Linked DNA regions of Homo sapiens: region 2 is linked to region 1. The links come from fine-mapping of genetic effects on plasma protein levels. Region 1 holds a variant in brackets. A gene starts in the other region. All regions are shown on their reverse strands.

The links. PIP is the posterior inclusion probability: the model's chance that the variant is causal. Protein levels are from antibody-based Olink assays in UK Biobank. Linkage for the fine-mapping came from a reference panel and not from the study's own genotypes, which makes the PIPs less certain.
Region 2: it holds the start of TREML2, and the variant in region 1 is fine-mapped to the plasma level of the TREML2 protein (UK Biobank, PIP above 0.99).

The regions. Positions count from the first base shown.
Region 1 is chr11:126,392,183-126,400,182 of GRCh38, reverse strand. All of the region lies in intron 1 of ST3GAL4 (ST3 beta-galactoside alpha-2,3-sialyltransferase 4), which reads right to left. Among named protein-coding and RNA genes, the nearest start is that of ST3GAL4, 40 kb to the right of the region's middle. RefSeq lists an enhancer at 5,528-6,455. The variant T/C (reference allele first, on the strand shown) is at 4,237.
Region 2 is chr6:41,196,602-41,205,128 of GRCh38, reverse strand. It overlaps TREML2 (triggering receptor expressed on myeloid cells like 2), which reads left to right and starts at 3,980. Exons shown (of 5, transcript NM_024807.4): 1 at 3,980-4,175; 2 at 6,700-7,020. The coding sequence starts at 4,121. RefSeq lists an enhancer at 3,692-3,761.

The DNA.
Region 1 (8,000 bases):
ACCATGAGCCAAATAAAATTCTATTCATTATAATATACTCAATCTGTGGTATTCTGTTACAGCAGCACAAAATGGACTAAGACAGAAAATTGGTGCCAAGAAGTGGAGAGGGGAGAGGAAAGCAGGGGAGGGGAGGGAAAGGAAGAAAAGAGAGAGAGAGCAGAGAGGAAAGAAGGAAGGGAGGGAGGGAGGCAGGCAGGCAATAAAGCGGGATTAGAAGATCTGTAGGGAAAGTCTGAAACTTCTTAGACTAAGTGGTTGTGATCAGAATGGTGGTAGAAATATCGATCGTGAAGGCCATTCTGATGAGGTCTCAGATATATCTGAAGATTAAGGTACTGGAAACTGGCATAACAGTCATCCTTGTTACAAAGCAGCAAAGAATGTGGCTACATTGTGTCCAGGTCCTCAAACTGTATAGCAGGCAGAACTTAAGAGTGATAAACTAGGCTATTTGGTGGAAGAAATACCTAAGCAGCAAAGCATTTTGGTTGCTGTATGACTTATTTTAACTGTATACTGTAAAACTTGAGAAGAAATAAATAATTTAAAGATGAAACTTATAAATAAAAGCAGGGTTGGGCGCAGTAGCTCACGTCTGTAATCCTAGCACTTTGGGAGGCTGAGGCGGGCGGATCATTTGAGGTCAGGAGTTCGAGACCAGCCTGGCTGACATGATGAAACCCCATCTCTACTAAAAATACAAAAAAATTAGCTGGGTGTGGTGGCACACACCTGAAATCCCAGCTATTAGGGAGGCTAAGGCAGGAGAATGGTTTGAACCCAGGAGACAGAAGTTGCAGTAAACTGAGATCGTGCCACTGAACTCCAGCCTGGGCAACAGAGTGAGACTCCATCTCAAAAAAAAAAAAAAAAAAAAAGAAGGAAAGAAAGAAAGAAATTTATAATGAAAAGCGAAACAGAACTTAGAGACTGGAAGGATTCTGAGACCGGCCCTGTAGTAGAGAATGAAAGAACTTTCAGGAGAGGAAAGCAAGGGTGCAGGCATGTTACCGTTTGATAGTTTAATAAGAATATTAGTATGGACCACTTGATAAGGAGATTAGTATTGGCCAGAGCCACAGTTTGATAAGGAGATTAGTACAATAAGAATGAAGCCAGAGGCTATTCATCAAGAAAATAAGAATGATCCCAAAGGTACTGCAGAGATGACCTGTGATCACAGCTCCGGCAGTGCCAAAATCTGAGGGAAGGAACTATGTCAAAAGCCAGGTCTTGGGAGCCCTCAGGACCTGTGGCTCACTGTCCAGGGCCACCTCAAGTCTCTGCTCCCACATTTGGGCACAGTGCTCCTCTGCCTCCCCAGCCATGGCTTAAATGGGCCCAGGTGCAGCTTGACCTACCATTCTAGAAGGTGCAAGTGGTGAGTCTTGGTGGCATCCCACATGGTCCTAATGCCACCAGAGTACAGAATGCAGGGGCTATGGGCCTGGCTCCCTCCAACTAGATTTCAAAGGATATTGCGGACAGACTCGGGACCCAGGCAGAGACTGGTTGCAGGGTCAGAGCCACCACCAGGGAGCCCCTGTAGGGCAATGCCCAGCAGAACTGTGGAGTCTGAGCTGCTGAGAGTCCCCAGGAAGCCTAGTGGAGCTGTGGGAGTAAGGCCATCCTGACACCCCAGAACTGCAGAGCTACCAGTGTGCAACAGCAACCTGGGGGAGCTGCAAGCATGAGACTCCAACCGGTGAGAGCTGCTGCATGGAATGAGCCCAGCAAGGCCAGGGAAGCAGGGCTGCCGGAGGCCTTGGGGGCCCAAGTCCCTACCCGAGTGTGTCTGGAAGGCAGGACATGGAGTCAAAGAAGATTATTGTCAAGTTGGGATTTGGTATTGTTCCCCCTGCTGGGTTCTGGAGTTGTCTGGACCAGTTGCCCCTTTCTTCTTGCCTATCTCTCCCTTTTGGAATGGAATATCTGTCCTATGCCTGTCCCATCACTGTACTTTGGAAGCAGACAACTTGCTTGATTTCACAGCCCATGACTGGAGGGGAATTTGATTCAGGATGAACCATACCTTGAGTTTTACCCACAGCTGACTTAGATGAGACTGTGGACTTTGGACTTTTAATGTGGTGCTGAAACAAATAAGAATTTGGGATTATAGGTAAGAAGCAAATGTATTCTACATGTGACAAGGACATCCATTTTGGGGACTGGGGCAGAATGCTATGGTTTGAATGTGTCCCTCAAAGTTCATGTGCTAGAAACTTGATCCTAAATGTTAACAATGTTGTGAGGTGGGGTCTCATAAGAGTAGGCCATGAGGGCTCTGTTCTCATGAATGGGTCAAGGGCTCTGTTCTCATGAATGGGTTTAATGCCATTATTACAGGAGTGGGTTCCTTATAAAAGGACAATTAGGCCCCTTCCTGCTCTCTCTCTCCACCTTGCCCTTCTTCCATCCACCATGAGACAATGCAGCAAGAAGACCCTCACCGGATGTGTCCTCTAGATCTTGGACATCCGAGCCTCCAGAACTGTGAGCCAAATAAACTTCTGCTCCTTATAAATTACCTACTTGGTGGTAATGGCAGCACAAAACAGACTAAGATAACATCCTAACCCTCCACATCCCGCTCGCTGGGACCATCCCACTCTGGTAATATCGGGCTGAAATGGTTCCTCTCCTACGAAGGCTTGACTTATACTTCCAAATGACTGATGTTTTGGTTCCCATGAGACGTTGTTTATACCTTAATTTCAGCACTTAGAGGTAACAAAATTTTATATTATACAAGGTTTTCATGTCTTGCCCACTATCCCATGACCTCTGAGATTGGAGACATTTTTATACCAAGAGCCCACCAGAGTTAAGTGTACTATAGAATATGCTTTATGGTACAATGTAACTTTGTGTTATATCATTCTGTGCTTTCCTAGCTTGCCTAAATGACCTCTGTGGTCAGGAACTTCTTTGTATCTCCAGATTCTATTAAACTGCCAAGAATGTAGCAGATGTTTTACAAACATCTGACAAATAAGTAATAACATGTGAATAAAGATGTATTGCATGTTCCACTAACAACTGAAATGTACTGCACGCTCAAAACGCGAAACCAGGATCTCTCAATCTCTGCACCACTGACTTGGAGGGGCCAGAGAGTTCACTGTTGCGGGGTCTGTCTTGTGTATTATGGGGTGTTTAGCAGCCATCTCTGGCCTCTACCTACTAGACACCAGTAGGAAATCCCTCTTCTCAGGTGTGACAAAGTGTTTCCAGACATTTCCAAATGCTGAGGACCACTGTGCTAGACACTTCTAAGGGCTGTGAAAGTGTTAAATATGATCTCGACCCTGTGAGTTCAACACGATAATTACCTCCATTGTAGAGCCAGGGAACTAAGGTGGGAAAGGGGTCAGTAACCGGCCCAGGTTGTACAGCTCGTGAGGAGTGGAGCTGGCACTGGAATTCTGGCTCCTTCAGCCAGAACCTCCACATCCTACGGCTTCTAAAACCATCCCGTGCAGACTGGCTCCCTAGACTCCACGATCCCCGGGATGTCCACCCCTGCCCTACACAGCAATTAGGGGAAGGGGTCTCAAGCACATCCAAGTCCTTCGAAGGCTCCGCACAGTGACGAAGAGCCTGTCGAGCCCCTTCTCAGCCACGCTTCCGCACGAGACACAGTCTCTAGCCCCCACAGCCCTGGTGCTCTCTGGAAGCTCTGCAGTACGTGTTCAAGGCACACAGCTGTATTCATGGGACCACTAATGCCTGCCAGCTGGACACCAGACTTCCATGAATCCGACCATTTTTTGCAGCCACATCCCACCACTGGCATGGACTGACTCTCTCCGCTGTAGGCCAGGTCTCCCGGGCTGCGGACTCCTCTGGCTTCCCTGCCGAACCTCAGCGCGGGCCTGGGCTGTACCTGCTTCCACACATTCCACAGCCTGTCCAGGAGTCAGTCTCCACAGTGTCTGCCAACCCACAGCGATTCCTCTCGGCTTAGTGTCCGCTGCCCACGTTCTAGAGGGGACTCAAGCTGGACTGTGCATTTGACGTCATTAATACAACTGCCAGGTACAGTGAGCGCAGGCTACGGGCTGGGGAGTTCTCCCACAGGGTTAGAATCCACCCGATCAACACTCGGATACAGACGGTCCGCTAATTGCAAGTGCCAAGAACAGACCGGTCATCTGTAAAACTCCTCCTCAGCCCCAAAACCCCATGGACTCTTCTCACTCACGGGGAGAGCCCGGGTCCTTGCTCTGA[T/C]GCACAGAGACACATGTGCTCTACTGGCCAGCACCTCCTCCCTCCTTGCCAACTCCTCCCAACACAGGCTGCCTGCGTTAGTCTGTTTTCGTGCTGCTGATAAAGACATGCACGAGACTGGGAAATTAATAAAGAAAAAGAAGTTTAATGGACTCACAGTTCCACGTGGCTGGGGAGGCCTGACAATCATGGCAGAAGAAAAAAAGTATATCTTACATGGCAGCAGGCAAGAAAGAAGGACAGCCACGTGAAAAGGGAAACCCCTCATAAAACCATCGGCTCACCTGACACTTACTACCAGGAGAACAACTTGGGGGAGAACACCACCATGATTCAATTATCTCCCACCAGGTCTCTCCCATGACACATGGGAATTATGGGAGCTACAATTCAATATGAGATTTGGGTGGGGACACAGCCAAACCGTATCACTGCCCAACCCACACCAGCCTCACCAGGTCTAGGGGGCTAGCTAGGCATGCTCCCTCCTCTGGGCCTTTGCGATTTATGCTCACTCAGTCTAGAATGCTTTTCTGTAGACATGGGCCTGGCTATCTCTCTCCGTCCAGCTCTTTACTCAGCTTCTCTACTTCCCAGCAACAACTCCACACACCCAACACTGCAGGCCCCCTCCCCTGCTTGCAAAGATGTTTCTCTTGTTTTGCTTGCTGCTGTATCACCCATGTTGACAATAGTGCCCGGCACCCAGCAGGCTCTCAATACAAACGTGTTGAATTAATAAATGGATCTGTTCATCAGATGGCATTGCCCCAGTGCAGGTGGAACAGAGTGGAAGAGGCAGTGACAGTAGGTCAGATATCTTCTGGCCCCTGTGGCACAGCCCCTGGCTGGACGCTGTAGCCTCACCCCATCATTGAACACTGTGATCACAGCACGCCTGGGCACGGGGAGGCTTCCTGGCTCATTAGAGTTGGCAGAGAGCACAGTGAGTAACTGACCAGCTAACTGCCTCAGGGTCATGCATGGGAGGATGGAAACATCTCTCAAGCTGTCTGACCTTAGAGGGAAAGGAGCCAGACAGGCTTCCACCTACAGCAAAAGAAGACTCTCTGTTCCCACCCTCGGGCTCCACAGGCTACCCACCCACCCCCCACCATCCGCCCCTGCAGCCTGGCACTGCAGACTCCTGTACAGAAACATTGTATCACCCGTTTATCAGCTGCCAGTCACAAGACACCAACCACTTGAAAATCATACCCAGGGCAGGGCCCCGTGCCTCATGCCAGTAATCCCAGCACTTTGAGAGGCCGAGGAGGGCAGATTGCTTGAGCTCAGGAGTTCAAGAACAGCCTGGGCATCATGGTGAAACCCCATCTCTATAAAAAATACAAAAATTAGCCGGGCATGGTGGCATGTGCTTGTAATCCCAATTACTTCAGAGGCTGAGGTGGGAGGATCACTTGAGCCCGGGAGGTGGAGGCTGCAGTGAGCTGAGATCAGGCTACTACACTCCAGACCAAGTCAGATCCTGTCTCAAACAAAAAGAAAAGAAAAAAGAAAATCATATCCTGGTGCCTGCCTGAGAGGGGCAGAGGCTTTGAATTCCCTTCTCAGGGTGAAAAAGCTGAAGCCACTGTGACGAGGTGGGAGTCAAGAGAGCAGGGCCAGGCCCAGGATACAGGAGAAATCCAGGGCCTGTGTGGACCTGCCCCAGGTCCTGGTCAGGGGCTCCCGGGCGCTCCTCCCTCCCAGGAGAAGCAATGCACCCACCCCAAGGATCTAAAGCCAAAGGTACCAGTGTCTGGGGCTGGAATCTGGCTTCCCACCAGCACAGCCAATCCCCTGCTTCCAGCACAGCCAGTGCCCTGCCTCCCCTGACCCCAGATGCCTGCTGTGAGAATGGTGGACTGCACCAGCCCCACCACATCCCACTTGGTCACCCCAGTCCCAGGCCACTGAGTATTTGCAATGGGGCCAGTCCACACTGACATGTGCTTTAAGTGGAAAATACACACCGGATTTCAAAGATTTAGTACCCCAAAAAAAGAATAAAATATCACCTTCATTATTTTATGCTCATCCCATGTTGAAATGCCAAGATTTTGGCTATATTGGGTTAAAATATTAAAACGAATTTCACCTATTTTTACTTTTTAAAACCGTGGCTAAATTTAAATGTTTTAAAAGTAATTTAAAATTACATGTGGCTTGTATTTCTGGCTCCCATTCTATTTTGACCGGACACTGTTGGGCTAGAAAATCTCCAGGATTCCTGCTAGCTCACACTTCCTATGACCTGAAGACGGTGGTGTCCACCCTCAAGTGCCTACTGGAAGCACCAGGAGAGTTTATTAAGCTTCATCGGCTCCCAAGGCTCCACTTCAGAAAGGCTAAATTAGGAGGGCTGAGATGCCTGTGGAGGGGTCCCGCTTATTCTGACTCGTTTGACTCTGATGTGCAGTCAAAGCACATCAAAGTCAAAAAGACCTCACTCTCCCCGTCCCCATCCCCCTCCTCCTGAGCCATCTGGGCCCTGGGTATGGAAACACATTCAAGGTGACATTGCTCCCCCGGCCCACACAATCACCTCTACTCTGCCTAAACCCAACCTCTTCTGGACCCCCTGATATCCTGCCCCAGTGCCTGCAAGGGGCGGGCCACCCAGCTACCCACCTCACATACCTTGCCAGCCCACGCAGTTGGGCAGCCATGTTTGAGTTAGCAAGCAGGTCAGATGAAACTGGTTCACCTGAGCCTTCTCTCCTCTGGCCAAGACCTGTGCCCTAGGCACTGGCTACCGAGACTAAACCCTGTCTCTGCTACTTGCAAGGCATGTGACTGCAGACTCTGCCCCGTCTCTATAAAAATAAAAATAAAATTAGCCGGGTGTGGTGGCACACACCTGTAGTCCTAGATACTTGGGAGGCTGAGACAGGAGGACCCCCTGAGTCCAGGAGATCGAGGCTGCAGTAAGCTATGATCGTCCCCCTGCACTCTAGCCTGTCTCAAAAAAAAAAAAAAAAAAGAACAGGAGTTGGTCGTGTTACAAATGTTGAGAGATCTGGAATCAGTGGTTGGGACCCAAGCCCAGACCTCTCTTCCGGCCTCCTCTCCTCCCAGCCACAGTTTCCTCCCTGCATGGGGTTCAGACCACCCAGTCCAGAGAAGCTTCCTCACTCCCCCACATCCAGCTCTGTCACATCATGCTGCTTTATTAACTTTGTGGCAGTTAAACCACACTGTCCCAAGTACCAATTAGACCACGCACTCCCAGCAAGCAGGGACTTCTTATGTCCCATAGTATCTCCAGCACTAAATTTAATGCCTGACACATGGTAGATAACTGACAAATATTTAAATGAATGGAGGTCTGAATTCATCAGCAAACAATAAGATGACTGTGAGCAGCAAGTTGCATCAAGTTAAAACAAGCCAGGCTTATTCTGAAAAGACCTGGGCATCTAAGGCACAAGGGGCTTGCTAGAAGCTCACACTGGGAGCTGGCAGAGCCAGCGCACTTTCTGCCAAATGCATGTCGATGAGCTCACAAGGACCTGCTTTATCCCCAGGCAAATGAAGTGGCTTCTGCAGAACTGGAGGTTGTCATGTCCGACTGATCTTAACCACTTACCAGCTCCATGTCTGCTGCACCATATCAGAACTGATGTCCGACAGTAAACTCTGTGCAGTCCCAGGAGAGCTGCAGGCTTGAGGACACCCTAATACCCAGGAAATCTCCTTCCTTCCTACTTACTTCCTCCTAACGGGGGTCAACCTGAGATGAAACCCCAGGACCAAGCCCC
Region 2 (8,527 bases), not on the chromosome of region 1:
TAAAAGACAAACAACACAATTGAATAAATATTTTTCCAAGGGTATACAAATGAGCAAATTGTGCATGCTCAAGATGAAGATGCTCAATATCATTAGTCATTAGGTAACTACAATTCAAAACTTAAGTACATTCACTGGATGGCTGTAAACAGAAAGCCAATACAAGTATTGGAGAGATTGTAGAGAAATGAGAACTCATACATTGCTGGAGAGGGTGTAAAATTTGCAGCCACTTTGGAAAACTATTGGTAGTTCCTGAAAATGTTAAACATAGAGTTGCCATATGACCCAGTAGTTCTACTATTGGTTATGTACTCAAGAGAAATGAAAACGTATGTCCACACAAAAACTTGTACATGAATAGTCATAGTAACACTGCTTATAATAGTTGAACAGTGGAAACAAATAAAATATTTGTCAACTGATAAATGGTAAACATATATATCCATTCAGTGGAATATTATTCAGCCTTTAAAAGGAATGATGTATTAATACAACGTATAGCACAAGTACAGCTACAACATGGACAAACCTGGAAAACATGCCAAATGAAAGAATCCAGTCACAAGGAACACATATTGTTCAATTATGTTTTTATGACATATCCAGAATTGATAAAGGCATTTTTGATTGAAGATATTTTTGTCTAGAAAGACAAAAATATTAGTGGTTGCCTGGGACTGTAGGAATGGGGACTGTGGTAAGCTGATAAATGGTCTCTTAAAAGATATCTGTGTCCTAATCCCTGGAACCTGTGATTGTTACCCTTATATGGCAAAAAACAAAAAAAAAATGATCTTTGCTGATATGAGTGAGTTAAACATCTTGAGATGGTGAGATTATCCTGGATTACGTAGATGGGAACTAAATGCAATCACATGTATCCTTATGTAAGAGAGTCAGAGTGGGATTTGAACACAAAGAGGAGAAAGTGATGGGAAGATGGAGCAGAGGGAGACTGAAGATGCTGGCCTTGAAGATTGGAGTAAAACAGCCCCAAACCAAAGAATGCTGGCAGCTACCTGAAGCTGGAAAGGCAAGGAACAAATTTTTCCCTAGTGTCTCTGGAGAGACTGCAGCCCTGTCGACATCTTCATCTCAATACAGTGTGAACTGACTTCAGACTTCTGCCTTCAGAATGGCGAGACAATAACTTAATACTGTTTTAAGCCACCAAGTCTGCAGTAAACGGATCCAGGGAGTGCCTGCTAACGGGCATGGGGTTTCTTTGGGTGGGGAAATCCTGCAAAATTGGTGTTAGTTGTACAACTCAGTGAATATATTGAAAACCACTGAATTGTATGCTTTAGATGGGTCAGTTTTATATTATGTGAATTATAGCTCACAGAATTGTTGAAAAAAGTCATTGTGACCTTGGGTTAAGCAAAGATTTATTAGATATGACATAAAAATTGATTCATAAAAATTATATATTGGACTTCACCAGAATAAATCAACATAAAGTGCTTCACTTTTCCATTCTGGAAAGAGAGAAATGACAGGAAAAAACCCCACCAGATCAGTGTTTGTCTGGGACTGAAGGGATGACTAACAAGGAGCAGAGGAAAGCTTTTCGGGATGATGGCACTCTTCTCTGTCTCCATTACGGCATTGGATACAAGTCTCTAGAACTCCCAGAACTCGTCACTGAAAAGGGTGAATAGTACTGTATGTAAATTAGGCCTTAATTTTTAAATGGGAAAAATAAATATAAAGACAAAATACACTGCTGTATTAAATCAAATGATAGATGTAAAAGTCTAATGTATACGTATTTTTAATGATTTTGACCAATGCTTCCAAATTTCTCTTAAGAAAGATTGAATCCAGTGCATACTTCCTCGATCAGCGAATGAATGTTTGATTCTTTCTACCCTCATCAGCACAGTGATCCCAAGGGTCACACTTTAGACGATGATTGGCTCAGTGCTGGGCGCACTGTATCAGTTTCATAGAATCATGGATTCCAAGCGCATAAAGTCCCCACAAGAGATAAATCCCCCACTCCTGAAGCAACTTACTGTTCTGATGGGGGAAGGGATGGAGGAACTTACTGTGTGTGCTGGGGAGGGGAGATGGCCCCTGAACTCAGGGAGCTCAGGAAGTTCTGAGGACTGGGTGAGAAACATTGAAAAAGGAAGGGTGAATAAGGAAAACAAAACACGTCTGTGAGCTGAGAGGTCTCAAGTGACAATCGTGTCTCATTCCTACGCCCCCAGTGCCTACCTAGCCCCATGCATAGCAATGAGGTTGTGGGAATGAACAAATGAATGAATGAATTAATGAGTGAGTGAATGAGTTGAGAGACTACAAAAGCTTAGGGTCAGCCGAGATAGACTTCTTTGCTTGGAGCTTGGGGCTTCAAGGTCAATTTAAGATTGTGGCCATGCAAGCTTGAGGACTTTTTGCTCTGAGTCCTGTTAAAATTAATGAAAATGGAGACCAGGCCTGAAGAGTCCCTGAGCAAAAATTAAAAAAACAGTTAGGCCTCATAAGTGACCTCAACTTTGCTTGATTTGCAAATATCAGTGAAACTTAACACGAGCTATTTCTTGTAAATGTGTATATTAAGGAAAAATAGAACTTAAGCTCAACCAATCAAAAGAAACTTATATAATTAACTAGGGTCTTTCCAACAGGATAGGCCAAATAAGGGAACTATATAACTATAACTAATTAAATATTTTCTTCAGTTTACTTGTCCTGTAGGAGTCTTCCCCTTGCATTCCCCCAGTGGAGCTCCTCAACCTCTTCTGTTTGGAGCTGCCTGATTCATGAATTGTTGTTTGCTGAAATAATCTGTTTAAAATTTTATTGTGCCTCAGTTTACCTTTTGACAGTCCCATCTAAGGAGTAGAAACATGGCACTAGTGAGTAGGGGGAGCATACATAATCACGGGAGTCCAGCTGGGTCCCCACACACTGAAGGAGCAGATGACACAGGTACCGGACATCAAAAATTGATGCTTCTGATTCTAGGCCTTGGGGTAAGTGAAGGGTGTGGTCTTGGGCCTAGTGCTGGGTCATTTCCACTGGAGCTGGTGGCTGTACAGGCGAGATAGCATTGAGCAGGAGGAAGTGGAGGGCACTTGCCTGCGTGCTGACGTAGGCTGGAGGCAGGGGAGGAAGGGGGTCTTGAGATGAGGTGGGTGAGGGGAAGTACTGCGGAGGCTGTAGGAAGCCTGCACGAGGGACTAGGAGTCTAGAGGGAGCTGATGGTGAGTAGAGTCGACAGGAGGAGAGGCAGGGAGAGGGACAGAGAGAGGAGACGTATGGATAGGGAAAAGGAGAGGCTGCTGGGGTGTGTGTGAGACTGTGTGCATGGGCGTGTGTGTGTGTGTGTGAAAGTGAATAAAAGACAAAGTGAGACTGTGAGTGTGAGTGCATGTGCATGCACACCTGTGTGTGAGAGTACAGGAACCCCTCCCTCAACCCAAAATTTATGCCCTGAGTCTTAACAATTTGCATTTTTCCCGCTTGACAAAAGTAAGATTTCAAGTGAGCCTGTAAGAGGTTATTTGCAACAGTGAACACAAGTGACTGTTCTGAGCAGCCAGGAGCCTGGGAGAGAGAGAGAGGAAGGAACAGAAAGAATCTGCAATGAATGAATGAATGAGAGTTTATAAGAACTTCCCTGTGAATGTATATATGTAAGAAACTAGGGTCTGAGATGCTCCATCTCAGCCTAAGAGCCCGCACCCCTGGGTCTCTGAGCCCAGAAGATTCCAGGAAGGTCTATACCTGACGTTCCAGAAGCCTCACCCCAGCCCCCTTGCTGGATCCTAGGGACCAGTTTCTGGGGGAGGTTGGGGAGGGCGGGGAGCCCTCTGACTGTGAGTCCTCCCGGCTTGGGGCCCCAGACTGGGTGGAGCAGCCACACCTGCCTGAAGTTCCGAGGAAAAGGGCGGAAACAGCTGCCAGCACCGCCCTCATAATAGGCTCAATGAATCCCTGCGGTTGGCTGGGGGCAGTGGGTCCCACACTGCCTCACTTCCCTAAATGGGCAGCTTCACTTTTAGAACCCCGGGTCCTTCCCTGGCAGGCCCAGGTGGCACATCCTGTGTCGGGTGGGCCCTCACCTTGGATCTCCAGGCCTGACACTGCCCAGCTGGATGGAACCATGGCCCCAGCCTTCCTGCTGCTGCTGCTGCTGTGGCCACAGGGTTGCGTCTCAGGTGAGGGGAGAAGGGGCTGACTTGTGGAGGAGGGAGTGGGTACAGAGGCAGGAGCTCAGGGCCTTTTTCTTACCCTCCTTACCAGCAGTTTTCTTGTTTAGTGTTTTGTGGGTTGGGGAAGGAGGAGATTAGGGCTGACTTAGCTCTTTACCCTAATATCAGGCCCCAGGCGAAGCTAACCCAGGCCTCCCAAGCCAAGATAAAGCTCTGGACCCTCTCTGCATTGGCTCCTTTATCTGCTAGGCTTCCTCAGGCTTTAAAGCAGAGCCCTCAATTTCCTCACACAAATAGCTTTCTCTGCTTGGCCTCTGTCAGGAAGCCCTGCTTAGTTATGACAGCAATCATTGCATCATGTGTGTTTTGAACTGAATTTGAACATTTTTCTTGAAATGCTGATGCCACATCCTGTCCCTGCCTCTGTCCTGAAGGGACCAGTGTGTGAATGCCTTTCCCACCTCACAGATACCAATGCTCCTTGAGGAACCTCACCCATTCCTGCCCCTCTCGCTGCCATGGCAACCAAGTTACCACTTCCTGTTCAGTTCTGGGCATGGTGGGGGTTGGCAAAACTCACCACTGCCTGTGAGAGGGGTGGGAGGTGTAGGCACACATGAAGACATTGCCCTGGAGACCCATCCCAAGGTCACCCAACTCTGCACCTCCCAGAGGGTAGAGAAACAGCTTCCCACTGCCAGGGCAGAAAGGGGTCTCTCTTGTGCTAAGAAATCCTGGGCTCATCCACCAAATAATGAAGTTGGATCATTCTGTTTAGTTTGCAAGGGACAGAGGGATGCTTAGAGAGGGTGCTGCTTCACACAGAGCCTCAGCTCTAGTGGCTGCTGGCTGGGACTTGGGACGGATATCCTGGATTCTGGTGGGACAGATGTCCTGGATTCTGGGCCCTTGACTGTCACAGCTCTGGGTTCCATTGGGGGAACTGGGAGGCCCCAGCATGTGGGAAAAGGAAGCATGAGTTGAGCATGCACTGTGTGCAAAGCACTGACCTGGGGCAGAATTCTCACAGCAACCTGTGAGGGGTGTGGTGCTATTCTCACTTGACTGATAAAGAAACAGAGATATTTCTGTATCAGTCAAGTGTCTGTTTTGATATTTCTGTATCAAACAGGTGACCTAATCACACCACTAAGTGGTAGAAACAGGGTTTCAACCCTTGTTTATTTTGACTCCAAAATGTGTGCTCTCTGTTCTCTACTATGGGGGAGAGTCTTTTTATATGTGGTTTTTTTGGAAGACTCTGGGGTGAAATTATCAGAAGAGTCAGCTGAGCTTAAGGCAGGCAGAGGGGTGGAGGGAGCCCAAGGCAGCTTTCTCCCTCTCTCTGTCCCCTGAGTCACCCTGCACACCCCAGTTCTGCTCTGTCTCTACCAGACTGTGGATTATGAAGGCTTGGACCACATCTTACTCCTCAGCATAGAGAGAAAGATATTGCAGGTGGAAAGTGAATAATTGTAGAATCCTGTGGTTCACACTCCATTGGGAGTTTGTTTACATGTATATTTAGACAGGCTTGATCTATGGGTTTTATGTAACTAGAATATTTTAAAACTAAACACCAGATGGAATGAACTAAGGAGAGTTATTATTTAAAGAGGACTAAGTGAACCTATTTGTGAAATAAATAACTGTTAATCATATTTTCAAATACTAGATTTTCTTATCTACCTAGTTAGTTGGGCACTGAAATTTCACAACTTAATGACCTGTGTTTGTGTCTCTGCATCTGTCTCACTGAGGGCATGACCTGGGTTTTTCCCACAAGAATTCCCTGGGATGCCGGGCACAGTGGCTCACGCCTGCAATCCCAGCACTTTGGGAGGCCGAGGCAGGTGGATCACGAAGTCAAGAGATTGAGACCATCCTGGCTAACATGGTGAAATCCCGTCTCTACTAAAAATACAAAAAATTAGCCGGACGTGGTGGCAGGCACCTGTAGTCCCAGCTACTCAGGAGGCTGAGGCAGGAGAATAGTTTGAACCCAGGAGGCGGAGGTTACAGTGAGCTGAGATCGTGCCACTGCACTCCAGCCTGGGCAACAGAGCGAGACTCCGTCTCAAAAACAAAACAAAACAAAACAAAACAAAACAAAAATGAATTCCCTGGGAATCCCTGAAGACAGAGCTTGTCACTTTCCCATCAGACTAGAAAATACCATGAGGAAAGGGGCTGTGTCTGATGGAGCTCCGAGTGTAAATGCTGCGTTTCCTCCATTAGACTGGGGACTCACTGAGGGATATACCTGCCTCCTCCATCAGACTGAAAGCTCCCTGAGAGCGGGGGTTGTGTCTCCACTGTAATACTGGAAGCTAGCTGTTTTCAGGGCCCATTCACCTCCCTTCAGATTGGGGCAAGCTCCCTGAAGGCGGGGCTGTATTTCCCCCTCAATCTGTGGGTTCTGTGACAGCAGGACAATATCCACTCTACCCTTCACCATGATCTTCAACTTTCATGATGTCTTCTTCCTCTCCTCTTGCCAGACCTTATTCAATAAGTATTGTCTCCACAGGCCCCTCTGCTGACAGTGTATACACAAAAGTGAGGCTCCTTGAAGGGGAGACTCTGTCTGTGCAGTGCTCCTATAAGGGCTACAAAAACCGCGTGGAGGGCAAGGTTTGGTGCAAAATCAGGAAGAAGAAGTGTGAGCCTGGCTTTGCCCGAGTCTGGGTGAAAGGGCCCCGCTACTTGCTGCAGGACGATGCCCAGGCCAAGGTGGTCAACATCACCATGGTGGCCCTCAAGCTCCAGGACTCAGGCCGATACTGGTGCATGCGCAACACCTCTGGGATCCTGTACCCCTTGATGGGCTTCCAGCTGGATGTGTCTCCAGGTGAGCAGGCTGCAGTGGCTCTGGGACGGGTGGAGGGAGTCCCTCCTGCCCCACACTCCACTAACATCAGAGATAATAAGGATAATAATCCATCAGTGGTCATGTTGCACTGTAGTGTTTTCAGAGTGCCTTTATGGCACTATTCGTGGCACTATTGTCACCATTTTACAGATGAAGATAATGAGACCTGAAAACCCAGTGTGACTCTGAGCTTGTCCGGGGTCCCAGAGCTAGCAGGTGGCTGAGATAAGGTTCAAACTTGGCACTGTCTGTGCTGTGTTTTATTCACTCATTGCTTCAACATAATTCATTGAGCCCCTATTATGGGGCAGGCACTATTCTAGGCTCTAAGGAGACAGTGAGCAAAAACACTCACAATCCTGCACTATGGGAGATGACAGGCACACTTATTATCCAGACAAATAATTGCAGAAAACAAGAGGTGTTCATAAGAAACTAGGAACTGTTTCAAATAATTGCAAATAACTAGAGGTGTTCATGAACTAGTAAGCGACTCGGTGGTGGGGGAGCTACTGAAGTACTGGGGGTCAGAGAACACCTCCCTTAGCAGACAACACCAAGCAGAGCCCTGAATGGTGAGCATTTTCCAGCCCTGTTGAAATCTGGGTGCTTTGAAGAGCACTTTGTCGCAAGAGCTGAATATGCAAAGGTCCTGAGGTCAGAAGGAGCTTGGCTTGTATAAGGCTTATTTAGTCACTCTATATGGAGTGTGAGGCAATGAATGAGGAGGTTGGAGAGTCAAGCAGCCCTGAAGACCATAAGTTGGAATTTAGGTATAAGAGGAAGCTACTAGAGAGCTCAGAGAGCTGTCATGACTTGTTTTTAAGAATGTAGTGGCCACTTGTTGAGGATGGATTGTGAATGGTATGAACACGGGTAGAGAGGCCATTGTGGGCATCTGGCTGGAAACAACAGTGGCCTGGAGTACAATGTAGGCACTAGTGGCAGAGAGATGTGAATGGGCTCAAATCTATGTTTTTCAGACTTTCTGTTCAGCTCATATGTTTTGAAGGTAGGACAGGATTTGCTCAGTTGAGGGGTGAGCCAAAAGGAGGAATCATGGATGATCCAAGGTTTTCTATTTGATCAGCAGGTGGATGATGGTACCATTGATAGCGTAGGGTAAATCTGAAAGAGGAGCTAATTTGGAGGAGAAAAATCAAGAGCTCTCTTTTGTCATGTTAAGTTTAAGATACCTCCTAGAACCCCAAGTGGGGAAATGCAGCCAGCAGTGATATACCTGCCTGGAGCTAGGGTGAGAGGTCAGAGCTGGGGTATGTATTTGAAAGTATCTCTATAAAGATAGTGTTTAAAGTCCAGGGAATTAGAGAAATCTACAGACACAGAAAGTAGATTAGTGGTTGCTTAGGGCTGGGGGAAGGAAAAGGGGATACAGAATCATAGATAAACAGTAAGGGGTTTCTTTTGGAGATGATGAAGGTGTTCTGAAACTCACTGTGATGATGGTTGCATAACTTTGTAAGCA